Linked DNA regions of Homo sapiens: region 2 is linked to region 1. A link means that fine-mapping ties the variant in region 1 to the expression of a gene that starts in the linked region. Tissue or cell type: tibial nerve. Region 1 holds a variant in brackets; the other region holds the start of a gene. All regions are shown on one strand. Distances are from middle to middle.

What was found. PIP is the estimated chance that this variant, and not a neighbour inherited with it, causes the effect.
Region 2: it holds the start of RBP3, and the variant in region 1 is the best candidate, but not a certain one, in a credible set for the expression of RBP3 in tibial nerve (GTEx, PIP 0.80).

Annotation. Positions count from the first base shown.
Region 1 is chr10:47,368,145-47,376,249 of GRCh38, forward strand. ZNF488 (zinc finger protein 488) reads right to left here. Exons shown (of 2, transcript NM_153034.4): 2 at 1-793. The coding sequence starts at 685. Among named protein-coding and RNA genes, the nearest start is that of ZNF488, 12 kb to the right of the region's middle. The variant T/C (reference allele first, on the strand shown) is at 4,827.
Region 2 is chr10:47,344,925-47,353,029 of GRCh38, forward strand. It overlaps RBP3 (retinol binding protein 3), which reads left to right and starts at 3,439. Exons shown (of 4, transcript NM_002900.3): 1 at 3,439-6,614. The coding sequence starts at 3,561.

The DNA of each region.
Region 1 (8,105 bases):
GTGGAGCATTCTGTGGCAATGCTTGCAAGTTCCACAAATCACCAACCAAAAGCTTGGGAGTTGAAAGTCGACCCCAACAAGCGAGGTCTGTAGTGTTGAGGAGTCCAGACAGCTCCCCCAGGGCATCTGCAGATTCCCCTGCAGGGAAGACTGAGGTTAGCTCAGGCCTCTCTGCTGGTCGCTTGGTTGGTTTGCTAAAGGCGCTTCTTTGCTCACTTCGTGCTCCGCTGGGCCACACAGAGAAGACTTTGCTGCCAGCTGGGCCTCTGGGGATGTTCTGGGTCAGCTGTGGGGCACCAGGTTGGCCTGTGGGGTCATCGTGCTCCCTCTCCTGGGCCTGAGCATCCACCTGCCGGTCCTTCATCCTCGGCAGCTCCGTGAAGGCGCTCTGCCTCTGCTCTCCACGTGTCTTCGGGGGCAGCGGCTTGCCAGGTCGGGGCTTGCCTGGGGCTACCAACAGTGCCAGCTCCGCACTGCCCACATCCCGGCCCGCCCTGCCCACAGCAGCCTCAGGGCCCAGGCGGTTCGTCTTCTCGAGCAGCACTGGCTTGCAGCCCCGGCCCAGCTCAGGTTCGCTAAGTCGCCATCTGTTTTCAGCCGATGGGCTCAACGGGGCTCCCTTCCCAGCTGCCATGGTGATCACCAGGGCCGGGGCCACAGATAAGCAAGGTGGCCACTCTGGCATTCATCAGTCTTTGGGGGTTTGGGGTTCTGGAGGGCTTGGCCCAGCAAGGAGCCATGAGATATGGAAGCTCCCCATGACACTGGGCTGGACACACTCGGCCACAGGGCCCTGCAGAGAGAGGAAGCGACAGGCAGTGAGATGGGCATTCATCACTCAGGCACAGTGCATCATGAGCTGGCATCAGACAGGACCCTGATGCTCAGGCCTCCTCCGCTGTCTGTGGGATGGGTGTGCTGACTGCACCACCTCTCAGGAGACAAGGAGCATGGATGGCACCATCCTCCAGGGCCCACCTCCCTGAGGCAGAGTAGGGACTGAGGTCTCTGCTGAAAATGCCCATGGGCAGCAGCCTCTACAGCTCAGTAGAGAGAAACGTAGGATTCCCCTGTCAAAAGTGGTTCCTGGGGATTAACCAGGCATGAAATGGAGAGTCTGCAGGGGAAGGGAAAGAGCCTGCTCTGGGGGCTGCATTAGGGCCTTGGGGGCCCTTCAGAAGTTTCTGGGTCATCTGTCAACAAGTAGACTCCATCATGAGGAAGCCATGCACCCTCAGCCCCTGCTCCATGCTCGAGCTACCTCTGGCCCTGGCTGAGTGCTGAGGGCACAGGGAGGCCGCAGCATGAGGGTCGCAGTGTTGGAGGACCATGGACTTCATGGTCTTTGCTCCTCATGCAGCCCTCTCTGTCCCGACCCTAATTTCAACCCATTGCTCCTCGGTCTACCAGACCTGCCTCCCAGCCTGGTGGCCCCTTTGTCCACATCACATGCCCTGTCAGCTTCTGCGCGGTCTCTGATTTTCTCAGAGCCATGCTTCTTGTGAGAGTCAAGTGTCCCCACTCTTCCCCCAACTCCCAAGTACATGTGGGCAGCTTCATTCCCATCGTACCTGTGAACTCATTCCAAAATGCACCTCAGGCACAGTCTCCCCTTGAGGCTTGCCCAGTGCTCTCAGACACAGACAACACTCCCTCCTCCATGCCCTCACTGTCCTGGGCACCAAAGGCCTGCATGCACCACGTGCAACATTATATTTACTTGTTTGTGGTCTGCTAGAAGGCAAACTCTAAGAACCCAAATATGTCAATTCACCTTCACATCTGTAGTACTTAATCAAGCCTGCAACAGGACAGGAGCTCAGGAAGCCTTTGCTGAATGAATGAATGAATGAATGAATGACAGGACAGCAACTGTTAGAAAGAAGTCAACTTCCTCCTCCCAAAGAGTGTGGAGACCTGCTCCTGCACAGAGAGGAGAATGTGAGCCCTCCATATTCCCATAGGGCCAAGGGAGGAGACATCCGCATGGTGAGAAGGGCGAGGAGCCTACTGCAGCCTGCCTCTGAGCTTCTCCACCTCCTGCTCCTTCCCTGTGCTCCTTGCTGGGCACTTGGCCCCTGCCCAGTCCATAGCTCAGGCGCAGGTGGGGAAACCACTAGCTGTAGCAGAAGGGTATGCTTTGCTTTCCAACTCTGATGTAAAATCAAACTATGAAGCTCCACCAAGGGCGTCCAACCTATTCCCATTTCCTCATCTCCCCTTGGTTCCAACCCCAGTGAGAACCCACCCAGCTTTTCCTTAGGGAAATAGCCCACCAGCCTGTATTCTGAGAGCTCTCTAAGAATACAGCTGATTGGCCTGTGGGTGCCAAGAGTCACCTTAAGGGTGGAGGTCACACAAGGGCCTGGAACTCTGAAAGTACTCTCCCTCAGGCGCTGGACTAACAACAGTCTGACCATGGCTGGAAGAGGCAGGCTGAAGGGTCAGATCTGCCTAACAGGAGAGGGAAATGAGGCATGGTTTATAGTGGTGAAAGCAACAAGCAAGTAAATGCGTAACTCCAGAGACATGGTGAACAAAGCAGGATGCATACGCAAGACGAAGCACTGTGCAGCCTCGGACAGTGATGCTCGCTATGCTTATGAACGAATGCTGAGGAGGCAAAAGGACAAAAAGATTATAGATTTGGTGTAACCTATTCTATGCACACACACACACAAAATGCATACACCAAAGGAAAAACCCCAGGAGGAAACACAGAAAATGACCACCAGGTCATTTGTTCATTGATTCCCTCTTCCGTTCATTCCGCAAGCATTCACTGAGAGCATGCAGCATGCGGGCCCTGTGCGAGGCGCGGTAGTGACAGTGGTGATGAGGCAGTCCTGAGTTCAGCTGTACAGAACACAGGGACCTGCACATGTGCCAGTGTTGCAAACAGGCAATGGTGGCATCTAAACTGAGCTCTGAGGACCCAGAAGGGACTGCCCAGGGTTCACAAGAAGCTTGCATGGGGCCTGTGGTGTGGAAAACCTGAGGGCTCTCTGGGGAACTGAGCCTAACATAGTTCTGCAGTGGGAGAGTGCCCGGGGAGGGGCAGGATCCAGAAGCCAAAATAAAATGGACCTGACTGTTTTTAGAAATAAATGATTCATTTTTTAAGTGTGGCTATAAAGACTACGCAATAGTATGGGAAAAAAAAGCTTATAATACAATGTTAGTGTCAGATATAAACATGTTGTAAAACAAAACAGGAAAAAAGCCTATCTACCAAATAAACAAAAACATGAAAGAAAACATACCAAAGCAATAGATATGTGAAAAATAATTTTTACTATGTACATACACCATATAACATATAGTATACATAGTATGTATACATAATATACCATATAATACACTATATATGTAATGTGCTATATACTATGATGATGCTAGTATCATGGAATTTGGGGGAGTTTTTTCTCAACTTTCCAATATTTTCAAACTACTCTAGTCTTATTTTAGCATTTTGTTTTGTTCTGCAGTCAACTGTTTTAAAGGCGGCAGTGCCCTTTTCTGCTTGGTCGGGGTCAGAATTCTGTAAGGGATTCTCACGGCCCAGTGGAGCTGAAGCCTCTGTGACTTCAGAGATGCTACTTTCCTAACTGCTCCAGGAAATCATTCTGAGGTGAATTCCTCCCACTGTCTACTCTCCTTTGGAAAAGAGGAGTCCTAGCCCCCACGCTGGAGTGCTCTGGCTGGAGTTTCCTGGGAGCGGAGGGGCCTTCCCAGTGGGTGGACTATTTCTCATGGGGGCTTCACAGTCTGTTTCACACTGCCTAGAGAGACCCCTCCTCTGCCAAGCCTGGAACTGAGCATTCCCTGGGCCACAGGAACAAAAGGAGAGCTTTGGAAGAAGGGTGAAATGCCTGGGCACTCAGATCAGATCAGATCAGCTTTTAGGCAAAGTGCATTTCATTTTCTGTTCATTCATTCACTCAGTAAACATGCAAAAAGCACCTACTATGTGCCAGGCTCCAGTCTACATAAGACTGGTGACTCTCAACACTGACTGAATTCTAAGTAGTTGGAAATGACTGGAGAGTAGGGTGAGTGTGCAGTGTGGCCTGGAGAATGCATGTGGAGTTCAGAGTAGGAAGGTCCCCTGTGGAGGCCCAGAGAAAACTTCAGGGCTAGATGCAGTCCTGAAACAGCAGCCCTGGCCCTGCCCATGCTTGAATGCAGGAAGAGAACCTGAAATGTGGGGACAAAGAGCAACTGGCCAAGAACAGAGCCGGTGATGCTCAGGGGAGGGACACCCTCCTGTCAGCCCTCCCCACCCACCCCTTCTATGCACCAGCCTGTATCCAGTAACATGTCGCAAGGTCTTTGCTGGAAGCTCAAGCCTCCTCTGCTTTCTAAGCATGGAGAAGACAGAGACCAGTGTGAAGTATAGGTCAAGAAAAAAAATAAAGAGAAGGAGAAAACAGAGAAAATGCATAAAGATTCCCAGCTTTAAACCTTCTTCCACCTCCATCGTTGCCCCAAATTCCTCCAGGGCTCTCTGTCATGAAAATTTCAGAAAGTGCATGAGAAAACTTTGCAAATGAAGTCAGGGGTCACAGGCAGGGGAAAGTACTGGTCTCAGACTAGGCCAGATAAAGAAAAATATCAAAGACATCAGGAGAGCACCGACCTCGCCCATGGGATGCCTGCCGCAGTGAGATGCCACGCACCTGGCCTAAGTGAGAGGTGGACACACTCCCCTGGCAGCCACCATCTGGGGGTTCAACCTCATGTGTGTCCAGAGCTCTTGATGGGTGATGGAGGGATGGGCAGAGGCTGCTTCATCCCCACTGGAATCAGGCACCTCCTGCCGGGTG[T/C]TGACACAGATGTGAGGAAGGAAGGAAGCCACACCTATGGCAGACTGAGCTCTGTGGCTTACTCTGCCTTGGCGTGTCATGGGGCCACTGACCCCCATCACACTAGATTTTTCCAACCCCAGCAAACACACAGAACTCAGCCACCCTCACAGAGTCTCAAAAATAAAGGCTCTAGTGCTTGGCAAGTAAGAAATTAGGTCCATGCATGTGGCAAAAGTTAGACACAGTGAGCTTTGCTGGTTTTTCCCTCTGTTTTCCTTCCTCGGCAACATTCTTAAAAGAAAAATCAAAATAGTAATTACAACAAAAATGTCCTTGTTATCCTTCAGAGAGCACGGCACTGTATTTTCTTCACTCTAATGACTATTGCATCTATTTCCAAGCTTCAGACTATTAATAATACACAGGAATACCAAGAAGCAAATTAAAACAGAAAGGCACAAAAAGTAGAATGGGAAAGACGTGGGTTTGAATCTCACCTCCACGCATTTATTATGGAGCTTCAGTTGTGTAATGCAACTTCTCTGAATACTGGGCAATCGTGAAATGAGTGGGAACATAATGCATTTAAATAGGATAATAATATCTAGAAGGAGGCTCCCACCTCACCCGGCCCATGTCAGTGCCTCAGGAACGTTCATTTATTTCTTTGTGATCAAGGGACAGGAACAAAATGTACGGCATGGAGAAGTAAACAAAAGAATCAATGACTGTACACAGCCATGCTGCTGGGACATGGGACACCTTCTCCAAGCCCAAGATGGAGAGAGGCAAAGTCTTCCATAGACGGAACATCACTCTCCTAACTAAAATAGTTGCATTCTCAAAGATACAAAATGTGCCACTTTCTTAACTGAATAAACGCAGGCAGCATGGCGAGGAAGGACGGCCCAGCAGGCCTTGCCCAGTGTACCCTGAGAGAACACCAAACATTCTGCTCTTAGGTGCTCCATCCACCTACACTGTTTTATTCCCATGCCTTCACCAGATGTTGAAATGTGCTGCCAAATCAAACCTAGACGTAAGACAAACCAAAATAACAAGGAAAGCTTGCTGGTTAAGACTGAGAAACAGCGTGGGGTGGGCAAAAGCTAAGATGCTCGGGTATGAGTCTCAACTTCAGTGTTTCTAGATGGCCTTGGGCAGGTCCTTGTCCTTCAAAGATCTTGCTCAGCTGCAAAATGAGGAGGCTGCACCAGGTGTCCTCTATGGTCCTAAATACTATAAGGCGCCGAGTGACATCTTTATGTGGCATTATGATGCATCTTTTGTGATCAATCTGGTTTTTTAGACATTATTTTGACAAGCTAAAGGGCAAAAAATGCAGATCTAATAATCAGCTGTGACACAGCATGATACTTCTGTCAGCCATAGCCATACCCAGACTAAGTTGCTCTTCTAATGTTCATGAATATTCAAATACAAACAGGACTGTGGACTCCTTCTAAAAGAGGTGGATTAATAGGTCCCAGGAGCAGATCCCTGGTTACCTTGACACTCCACAGTGATTTCTCACATCCCTTAGGTTCCAGCAATCAGGGCTTCCCACCTGCAGACAGCAGCCTCTACCTGGGTAGTTTAAACAGAAAGGAACTTATTAAAGGCTATCATGCAGCTCATTAAATCCCTGTGAGAGCCAGAGACCAAGCTTGGGAGCTCTCCAAGGGTCAGGGTAGCCAGAAAAAAAAGCCTAACCATGCCCTGGCACTGTCTAGTAGAAACTGCTGGTACCAGCACCAATCACAAGGGACCAAACTCCTACAAAGTCCACCACAGCCACCCCACAAGTCCAGATGTCCCTGCCACCGTGAGTGACAGATATCACCTGCATGCCAAAGACTTCAGCTCATGGGACTCGACTGCACATCCGGGGCTGGGTGATGTATCTGGCTGCTTGTGAGGATCTGTGTCAAAGGCCTGCACCCTGGCTGCAAAAGAGTCTGGGAAACATGGATTTAGCTTCCCAACCTCTGCAGTGCAGGAAAGCCAAGTGAGATGGGGTTAGAAACAGTTGTTGACTGAACCAATGACAGTATCTGTTACTGTGGCACTTAATAAAGCTCACCCCCTGACGAAACTGAGTGGACACAGCCACGCAATTCTGTCTGAAGGTTTTCGTCTCTGCCTGCAACTTGATTTTCTTGGTATGCAGCCAGTGGTGTGCTGGAGCCAGCTCACAGTGGCTTGTGAGATGATCAGGAATGTTTCAAGTTAGCTGTTTTAACTCAGACATTATTCAAAACTAAACTATACAAACTTACAGTCAAAGAAGTTATATTAAAAACACAGGCAATACATACTCAGAACCCATCATTTCCTAGTCATTCTACTACACATTCCCATTGCCTACGCTGTGGACGCTGCTCCACCTGCCGGTGCGGGGGCTTGCCACGGTCCACTCCTCCTCATGCCACATCCAGGGATATCGTGAGTGGCCAGAAATCAGGGAATCAGCCAGAATGGGATTATTTATGGAAATGCTATAAATCAAGGCTTGATTTCTTGTTTTGTTCATTGTCTGGACTTAAGAAAGTAATGGAAAAAAATTGTCAATAATGCAGATTAAACTGAAATTTTTGTCTTGTCGATAGCTGTTATATTGTGAATAGCTCACAAAAAGCTGAGGGACTATTCTTCTAGTATTCCGAAACTATTATGTGATTTAGGAAAGAAGTTATTTAGATCACTGACAAACAAGTGAAGTTCTGACATATGTTCATTGTTCCACTTTCATCTTACACTTTATTGTAAATGAAAATATCACCCAAAATCCATGTTGCAGCTACATGCTGAGAACCAGCTGTTAAACACTTACCACACACCACAGCATGTACCCCATATACTTTCTAATTCTGGGCACCAGAATAATCAGAGAGACCCTCCTGGAAGAGGCAGGAGGCCTCCAAAGGGCAGACAGATACAAAGAAAAGAGAGGGCAGAAAGAACGGCACACGCGAATGCCAGGCAGTGACAAGAGTGGGTTAGACGTAAATCGAGAGTGTTTGTGAGGACTGTTTATGGGTAAGATCACATGGTCTAGCCACAGGGACCCACACCATATCTCTTAGGGGAGACAGTCGTTCTTTTATTCTGTGATAACAGGATGAATAGCATGGAAGTATTGCTCCACATGCAATGAGAGAGAAAAACACCTCTTCGTAACAGGACCTGGGATGGAGACAAGCCCACTTGAGTGGTTTGGGAGAAATGCTTCAAGATCAGGGATGGACCATGGACTGCCTGGGGTGCCTGAGGAATGTCCCATTGAGGAGGTGATAT
Region 2 (8,105 bases), 23 kb before region 1:
TTGCAGGGGAGAGGAGGCTTGCAGGGTAGAAGAGGCTAGTGAGGCGGAGCTGAGATGAGAAAGGGGTAATAAAATGTCTGTGGTAGAATCTAGGGAGGCAGCCATTAAACTAAGGTGGCTCTAACGCCCTGATTTCCTACAAGAGCAAATTGAAATCTAACTCAGACTCATTTACTGTAAGCAGCTAATTTAAAAGAAACCGAAGCTTAAGTCCAGCCAACCACTGATGGCCAACTGGACATCAGTTGCATGGTCTCGAACTTTCCACTAGGATGTCCCAAATCATGCAAGGGCCGAAACGCTAAGCAACCAAAGCATCTGTAATATTTATTCCACTTCTGCCTTCACCCTGTGGAAGCCTCCCCTTGTGCTCCCTTGCAGAGCCCCAAACTGCCTCTTGTGGGGAGCTACCAGATTCATGAATCGCTATCTGCTCGGATAAGTTCTTTAAAATGTGAACATGTCAAAGCATTTCTTTAAATGATGGCATATAGATATTTGCTGTACCACTTGAACATTTCCATTATAAAACATCGAGGGGAAAACTAACATAAAACAATAGACAGACGAGGGCTTTGGCCACTGAAAAGACAACATCTGTGATGCAATAGGCAAGACGCTCCTTCCTGTACTGCCCAGCTCCGCTTGCTCCCTGACCATCCCTGCAGCAGCCCTGATGTGTCATTGTCCCCCTCTTAACCTGCGCTGCAGGTGCTGCAGGGCTGGGCTCTGGAGCCTGGGTCTGGTCATTTCTCCTTAGATATGTAGAGGCCCAGGAAAGGTTTGGAGCCTAAGAAGCCCTAGGACTCCAGGTCTCCAGGGCAGCCCCAGCCTCTTGGAATGACTTTCCCTAATACCACAGGGGTGTTCTAATCCCAGGCAGACCCAAGCTGCCCCTCACCAACTCCTACGTCCTCAACTTCCTTTCATAACTTCTAGGATGGAAACACCTAATCCTCCAGCAATACTGAGGCTTTTCTCCTTATTCTGTTTTCCCTTTTGAAGAAGCCAAGGCTCAGAGCAGTCGAGTCACCTAATCATGGTCTCATGTCGCCTGATCAAGGTCTCATGTCACCTTATCAAGATCTCACCCACTCACCTATTCAGTTCTCACCAGTTCAGTTCAGGATGGCTTCTAAGCTACCCTGCACAGCTCTGCCCACAGGACATTTGTATAAGTGAGGGGGTGCAGGGCCTTCCAGCCCCCTCCAACTCCAAAACTCAGCCCCCAAGATCAAGTGGACTCTCTGAACCCACCCTGGCCCTACAGTTGTCAGGGTCTGGATGGGAAGATGTAGAGCTCTCGGCTTTCACTCTGGGGACTTACCCAGAACATATTCTCCTCATGAGCTAAGGAGGCTGGCTGCCATCTTCCTACATCCCCCCACGGCCTGGGGGCAAGGACACCCTGGCCCCCTGGAGTCTGGAGAACTCTGAGGACAGAACTTGCTCTTCCACCTGCTTGGGCCTTACCCACAGGAGAAGCACTGCTTCTCTACCCATGCCCCATCCAACTCAGGCACCCCAGGGACTTGCAACAGTCTGATTTTTTCTCACGTCCTTCTTAAGGCTCTGGGCTAGCCACACAAATCAAATCCCAGTGATAGGTCCAGACAATCCTATCCTGAAACTACATCTTAGTAAGACTCCAGGGAATCCTTTCCCCAAAGACAGTCTTACTCCTGTTCTCCCCCAAGCCCTTTCTGGGCCAGAAGCTTTGCCTGGACTCAAGCAATGGCAGACAAGTGCCCTCTGAGGACACGGAAGTGCATGCTCAGAACTGTGATTCTCCAAGTGGAGGCAGAGGAGAAGGCCCAGGCTTCCCAGCAGGGCTAAGGATATGCAAGGAGTGCATTCATCCGGAGGTGTTGGCAGCATCCCAGCCCCACCCCATTCTCATCGTAAATCAGGCTCACTTCCATTGGCTGCATACGGTGGAGTGATGTGACCATATGTCACTTGAGCATTACACAAATCCTAATGAGCTAAAAATATGTTTGTTTTAGCTAATTGACCTCTTTGGCCTTCATAAAGCAGTTGGTAAACATCCTCAGATAATGATTTCCAAAGAGCAGATTGTGGGTCTCAGCTGTGTAGAGAAAGCCCACGTCCCTGAGACCACCTTCTCCAGCTGCCTACTGAGGCACACAGGGGCGCCTGCCTGCTGCCCGCTCAGCCAAGGCGGTGTTGCTGGAGCCAGCTTGGGACAGCTCTCCCAACGCTCTGCCCTGGCCTTGCGACCACTCTCTGGGCCGTAGTTGTCTGTCTGTTAAGTGAGGAAAGTGCCCATCTCCAGAGGCATTCAGCGGCAAAGCAGGGCTTCCAGGTTCCGACCCCATAGCAGGACTTCTTGGATTTCTACAGCCAGTCAGTTGCAAGCAGCACCCACATTATTTCTATAAGAAGTGGCAGGAGCTGGGATCTGAAGAGTTCAGCAGTCTACCTTTCCCTGTTTCTTGTGCTTTATGCAGTCAGGAGGAATGATCTGGATTCCATGTGAAGCCTGGGACCACGGAGACCCAAGACTTCCTGCTTGATTCTCCCTGCGAACTGCAGGCTGTGGGCTGAGCCTTCAAGAAGCAGGAGTCCCCTCTAGCCATTAACTCTCAGAGCTAACCTCATTTGAATGGGAACACTAGTCCTGTGATGTCTGGAAGGTGGGCGCCTCTACACTCCACACCCTACATGGTGGTCCAGACACATCATTCCCAGCATTAGAAAGCTGTAGGGGGACCCGTTCTGTTCCCTGGAGGCATTAAAGGGACATAGAAATAAATCTCAAGCTCTGAGGCTGATGCCAGCCTCAGACTCAGCCTCTGCACTGTATGGGCCAATTGTAGCCCCAAGGACTTCTTCTTGCTGCACCCCCTATCTGTCCACACCTAAAACGATGGGCTTCTATTAGTTACAGAACTCTCTGGCCTGTTTTGTTTTGCTTTGCTTTGTTTTGTTTTGTTTTTTTGTTTTTTTGTTTTTTAGCTATGAAACAGAGGTAATATCTAATACAGATAACTTACCAGTAATGAGTGCTTCCTACTTACTGGGTACTGGGAAGAAGTGCTTTACACATATTTTCTCATTTAATCTACACAATAAGTAATTAAGACATTTCCCTGAGGCCACGGGAGAGACAGTGGCAGAACAGTTCTCCAAGGAGGACTTGCAAGTTAATAACTGGACTTTGCAAGGCTCTGGTGGAAACTGTCAGCTTGTAAAGGATGGAGCACAGTGTCTGGCATGTAGCAGGAACTAAAATAATGGCAGTGATTAATGTTATGATATGCAGACACAACACAGCAAGATAAGATGCAATGTACCTTCTGGGTCAAACCACCCTGGCCACTCCTCCCCGATACCCAGGGTTGATGTGCTTGAATTAGACAGGATTAAAGGCTTACTGGAGCTGGAAGCCTTGCCCCAACTCAGGAGTTTAGCCCCAGACCTTCTGTCCACCAGCTGAGAAGGACAAGGGCGGAAGGCAGCTGCACAGAGCAGGGCCACGGCCTTGCACACAGTCCAGGGAGCTTTTGTGCAGGAGCCAGGCCTCCCCCTGGGTCCCCATGATGAGAGAATGGGTTCTGCTCATGTCCGTGCTGCTCTGTGGCCTGGCTGGCCCCACACACCTGTTCCAGCCAAGCCTGGTGCTGGACATGGCCAAGGTCCTCTTGGATAACTACTGCTTCCCGGAGAACCTGCTGGGCATGCAGGAAGCCATCCAGCAGGCCATCAAGAGCCATGAGATTCTGAGCATCTCAGACCCGCAGACGCTGGCCAGTGTGCTGACAGCCGGGGTGCAGAGCTCCCTGAACGATCCTCGCCTGGTCATCTCCTATGAGCCCAGCACCCCCGAGCCTCCCCCACAAGTCCCAGCACTCACCAGCCTCTCAGAAGAGGAACTGCTTGCCTGGCTGCAAAGGGGCCTCCGCCATGAGGTTCTGGAGGGTAATGTGGGCTACCTGCGGGTGGACAGCGTCCCGGGCCAGGAGGTGCTGAGCATGATGGGGGAGTTCCTGGTGGCCCACGTGTGGGGGAATCTCATGGGCACCTCCGCCTTAGTGCTGGATCTCCGGCACTGCACAGGAGGCCAGGTCTCTGGCATTCCCTACATCATCTCCTACCTGCACCCAGGGAACACCATCCTGCACGTGGACACTATCTACAACCGCCCCTCCAACACCACCACGGAGATCTGGACCTTGCCCCAGGTCCTGGGAGAAAGGTACGGTGCCGACAAGGATGTGGTGGTCCTCACCAGCAGCCAGACCAGGGGCGTGGCCGAGGACATCGCGCACATCCTTAAGCAGATGCGCAGGGCCATCGTGGTGGGCGAGCGGACTGGGGGAGGGGCCCTGGACCTCCGGAAGCTGAGGATAGGCGAGTCTGACTTCTTCTTCACGGTGCCCGTGTCCAGGTCCCTGGGGCCCCTTGGTGGAGGCAGCCAGACGTGGGAGGGCAGCGGGGTGCTGCCCTGTGTGGGGACTCCGGCCGAGCAGGCCCTGGAGAAAGCCCTGGCCATCCTCACTCTGCGCAGCGCCCTTCCAGGGGTAGTCCACTGCCTCCAGGAGGTCCTGAAGGACTACTACACGCTGGTGGACCGTGTGCCCACCCTGCTGCAGCACTTGGCCAGCATGGACTTCTCCACGGTGGTCTCCGAGGAAGATCTGGTCACCAAGCTCAATGCCGGCCTGCAGGCTGCGTCTGAGGATCCCAGGCTCCTGGTGCGAGCCATCGGGCCCACAGAAACTCCTTCTTGGCCCGCGCCCGACGCTGCAGCCGAAGACTCACCAGGGGTGGCCCCAGAGTTGCCTGAGGACGAGGCTATCCGGCAAGCACTGGTGGACTCTGTGTTCCAGGTGTCGGTGCTGCCAGGCAATGTGGGCTACCTGCGCTTCGATAGTTTTGCTGACGCCTCCGTCCTGGGTGTGTTGGCCCCATATGTCCTGCGCCAGGTGTGGGAGCCGCTACAGGACACGGAGCACCTCATCATGGACCTGCGCCACAACCCTGGAGGGCCATCCTCTGCTGTGCCCCTGCTCCTGTCCTACTTCCAGGGCCCTGAGGCCGGCCCCGTGCACCTCTTCACCACCTATGATCGCCGCACCAACATCACGCAGGAGCACTTCAGCCACATGGAGCTCCCGGGCCCACGCTACAGCACCCAACGTGGGGTGTATCTGCTCACCAGCCACCGCACCGCCACGGCCGCGGAGGAGTTCGCCTTCCTTATGCAGTCGCTGGGCTGGGCCACACTGGTAGGTGAGATCACCGCGGGCAACCTGCTGCACACCCGCACGGTGCCGCTGCTGGACACACCCGAAGGCAGCCTCGCGCTCACCGTGCCGGTCCTCACCTTCATCGACAATCACGGCGAGGCCTGGCTGGGTGGTGGAGTGGTGCCCGATGCCATCGTGCTGGCCGAGGAGGCCCTGGACAAAGCCCAGGAAGTGCTGGAGTTCCACCAAAGCCTGGGGGCCTTGGTGGAGGGCACAGGGCACCTGCTGGAGGCCCACTATGCTCGGCCAGAGGTCGTGGGGCAGACCAGTGCCCTCCTGCGGGCCAAGCTGGCCCAGGGCGCCTACCGCACAGCTGTGGACTTGGAGTCTCTGGCCTCTCAGCTCACAGCAGACCTCCAGGAGGTGTCTGGGGACCACCGCTTGCTAGTGTTCCACAGCCCTGGCGAGCTGGTGGTAGAGGAAGCACCCCCACCACCCCCTGCTGTCCCCTCTCCAGAGGAGCTCACCTACCTTATTGAGGCCCTGTTCAAGACAGAGGTGCTGCCCGGCCAGCTGGGCTACCTGCGTTTTGACGCCATGGCTGAACTGGAGACAGTGAAGGCCGTGGGGCCACAGCTGGTGCGGCTGGTATGGCAACAGCTGGTGGACACGGCTGCGCTGGTGATCGACCTGCGCTACAACCCTGGCAGCTACTCCACGGCCATCCCGCTGCTCTGCTCCTACTTCTTTGAGGCAGAGCCCCGCCAGCACCTGTATTCTGTCTTTGACAGGGCCACCTCAAAAGTCACGGAGGTGTGGACCTTGCCCCAGGTCGCCGGCCAGCGCTACGGCTCACACAAGGACCTCTACATCCTGATGAGCCACACCAGTGGCTCTGCGGCCGAGGCCTTTGCACACACCATGCAGGACCTGCAGCGGGCCACGGTCATTGGGGAGCCCACGGCCGGAGGCGCACTCTCTGTGGGCATCTACCAGGTGGGCAGCAGCCCCTTATATGCATCCATGCCCACCCAGATGGCCATGAGTGCCACCACAGGCAAGGCCTGGGACCTGGCTGGTGTGGAGCCCGACATCACTGTGCCCATGAGCGAAGCCCTTTCCATAGCCCAGGACATAGTGGCTCTGCGTGCCAAGGTGCCCACGGTGCTGCAGACGGCCGGGAAGCTGGTGGCTGATAACTATGCCTCTGCCGAGCTGGGGGCCAAGATGGCCACCAAACTGAGCGGTCTGCAGAGCCGCTACTCCAGGGTGACCTCAGAAGTGGCCCTAGCCGAGATCCTGGGGGCTGACCTGCAGATGCTCTCCGGAGACCCACACCTGAAGGCAGCCCATATCCCTGAGAATGCCAAGGACCGCATTCCTGGAATTGTGCCCATGCAGGTGAGACCCAAGAGAGACCTGGCTGAACCCAGTCCCGGGAGTGAGTTGACCCATTGTCCGCACATGCAGGGCTCTGTGCACAGTGCGTGACAATGGCTTTTAGATTTGTTCTCACGTTTAAGTTTTGACCGGTCAAGTCCTTTCCTCTTTCTCAACCTGTTCCATCCACTCTCTGTGACCCTGGGGTTGCTGAACACCTCTGTAGAACATTCATATTAGGTTGGTGCAAAAGTACTTTCAATGGCAAAACCCGCAATTACTTTTGCACCCACCTCACAGGAAGCCAGTTTGAAAGCCAACCAATACTCACAGGAAGCCAGTTCGGAAGCTCCTGGGATAGAAGGCATTTCAGCCTTGGCTGGGTGGAAGGTGAGTGTTGGCAGGGCTTCTCATTGTCAGTGCTAGGGAAGAGGCCAACACCTGTCAGAGGTGGCCAATGGACTTCACCAAGTGCCCCACGCTGGCCGAGAGCTCCACCTAGGCAGCACTCACACCTCCACACTGTTCTACCTGTGGTCTGCTGCATCGTCACAATTGGGCAGGGCAGCATTTGCCATGGGATCCCTTGCAAGGAGGGTCTGAGACCAGGGCTTGGGTGCAGGCGCTTTGTCTGGGAGGCGGTTACTGAAGCAGGCATGAAGGAGGGAGCAGGGAGAGTGGGTTGGGAAGCTGACAGGCAGGTGCCTCAAAGCTGTTCTGCTGAAGCCAGGACCCTGACGAGTGCAGGGATGCTCCCAGGCATAGCCCTCTGCAGGCAGGGCCCAGTGGTTCCTGTCCCGCATTGGCCAAGAGTTGCCCTGAGACATGCCTCAGGGTGGGGCAGGCTCCCTCTTCTTGGAGAAGGCCTGAGCTACGGGTGGAAAGGCAGGGCTGTGCTATAGGAGAGCCTGTCAGTGGGGTCGGGTGCAGCTGAAAGCAGAGGGGGCTGAGAGTGCCAAAAGCATCTACTACAGAATTGTTATCCCCATTTTCCGCAACTGAGGCCCGGAGAGGAGCAGAGGGGAGTGGCCTGAGGCCAGAGAGCTGTGACTGAGGGCAGGGCAGGGCCTGGAGGGCAGTGTCTCTGTCAATGAAGTCTCCTTGCCTGTCAATCTCACCAAGACCTGCCTCCCTCCAGCAGCCTTAGAGAGGGAGGAGGAGGTGCATCCACGTGCGAGTAGCCTGTGCTAGGCTTGCAGAATCCCCAGTTTCCAAATCAACATCTCCTTCCTTTCCAGTATAGCCAAGGTTCACGATTTGGAGTCAGATGTGGATTCAGATTCTGGCTCCACCACTTACTGACTGTGTGACCTGAGACTAGTTACTTAATCTCTCTGTGCTTCAGTTTTTCCATGGAAAAGATGGGGATCGTGTTATCTCCTGTACAGGTGGCTGTGAGGATGATGATAAGCTCTACAAAGTGCTTAGTACCGGGCCAGGTGCCTGGTAAAGGTAACTAACATCTTCCAATCCTGCCCCAGTGGAGCAGCTTAGAGACATAGGAAGTATCTG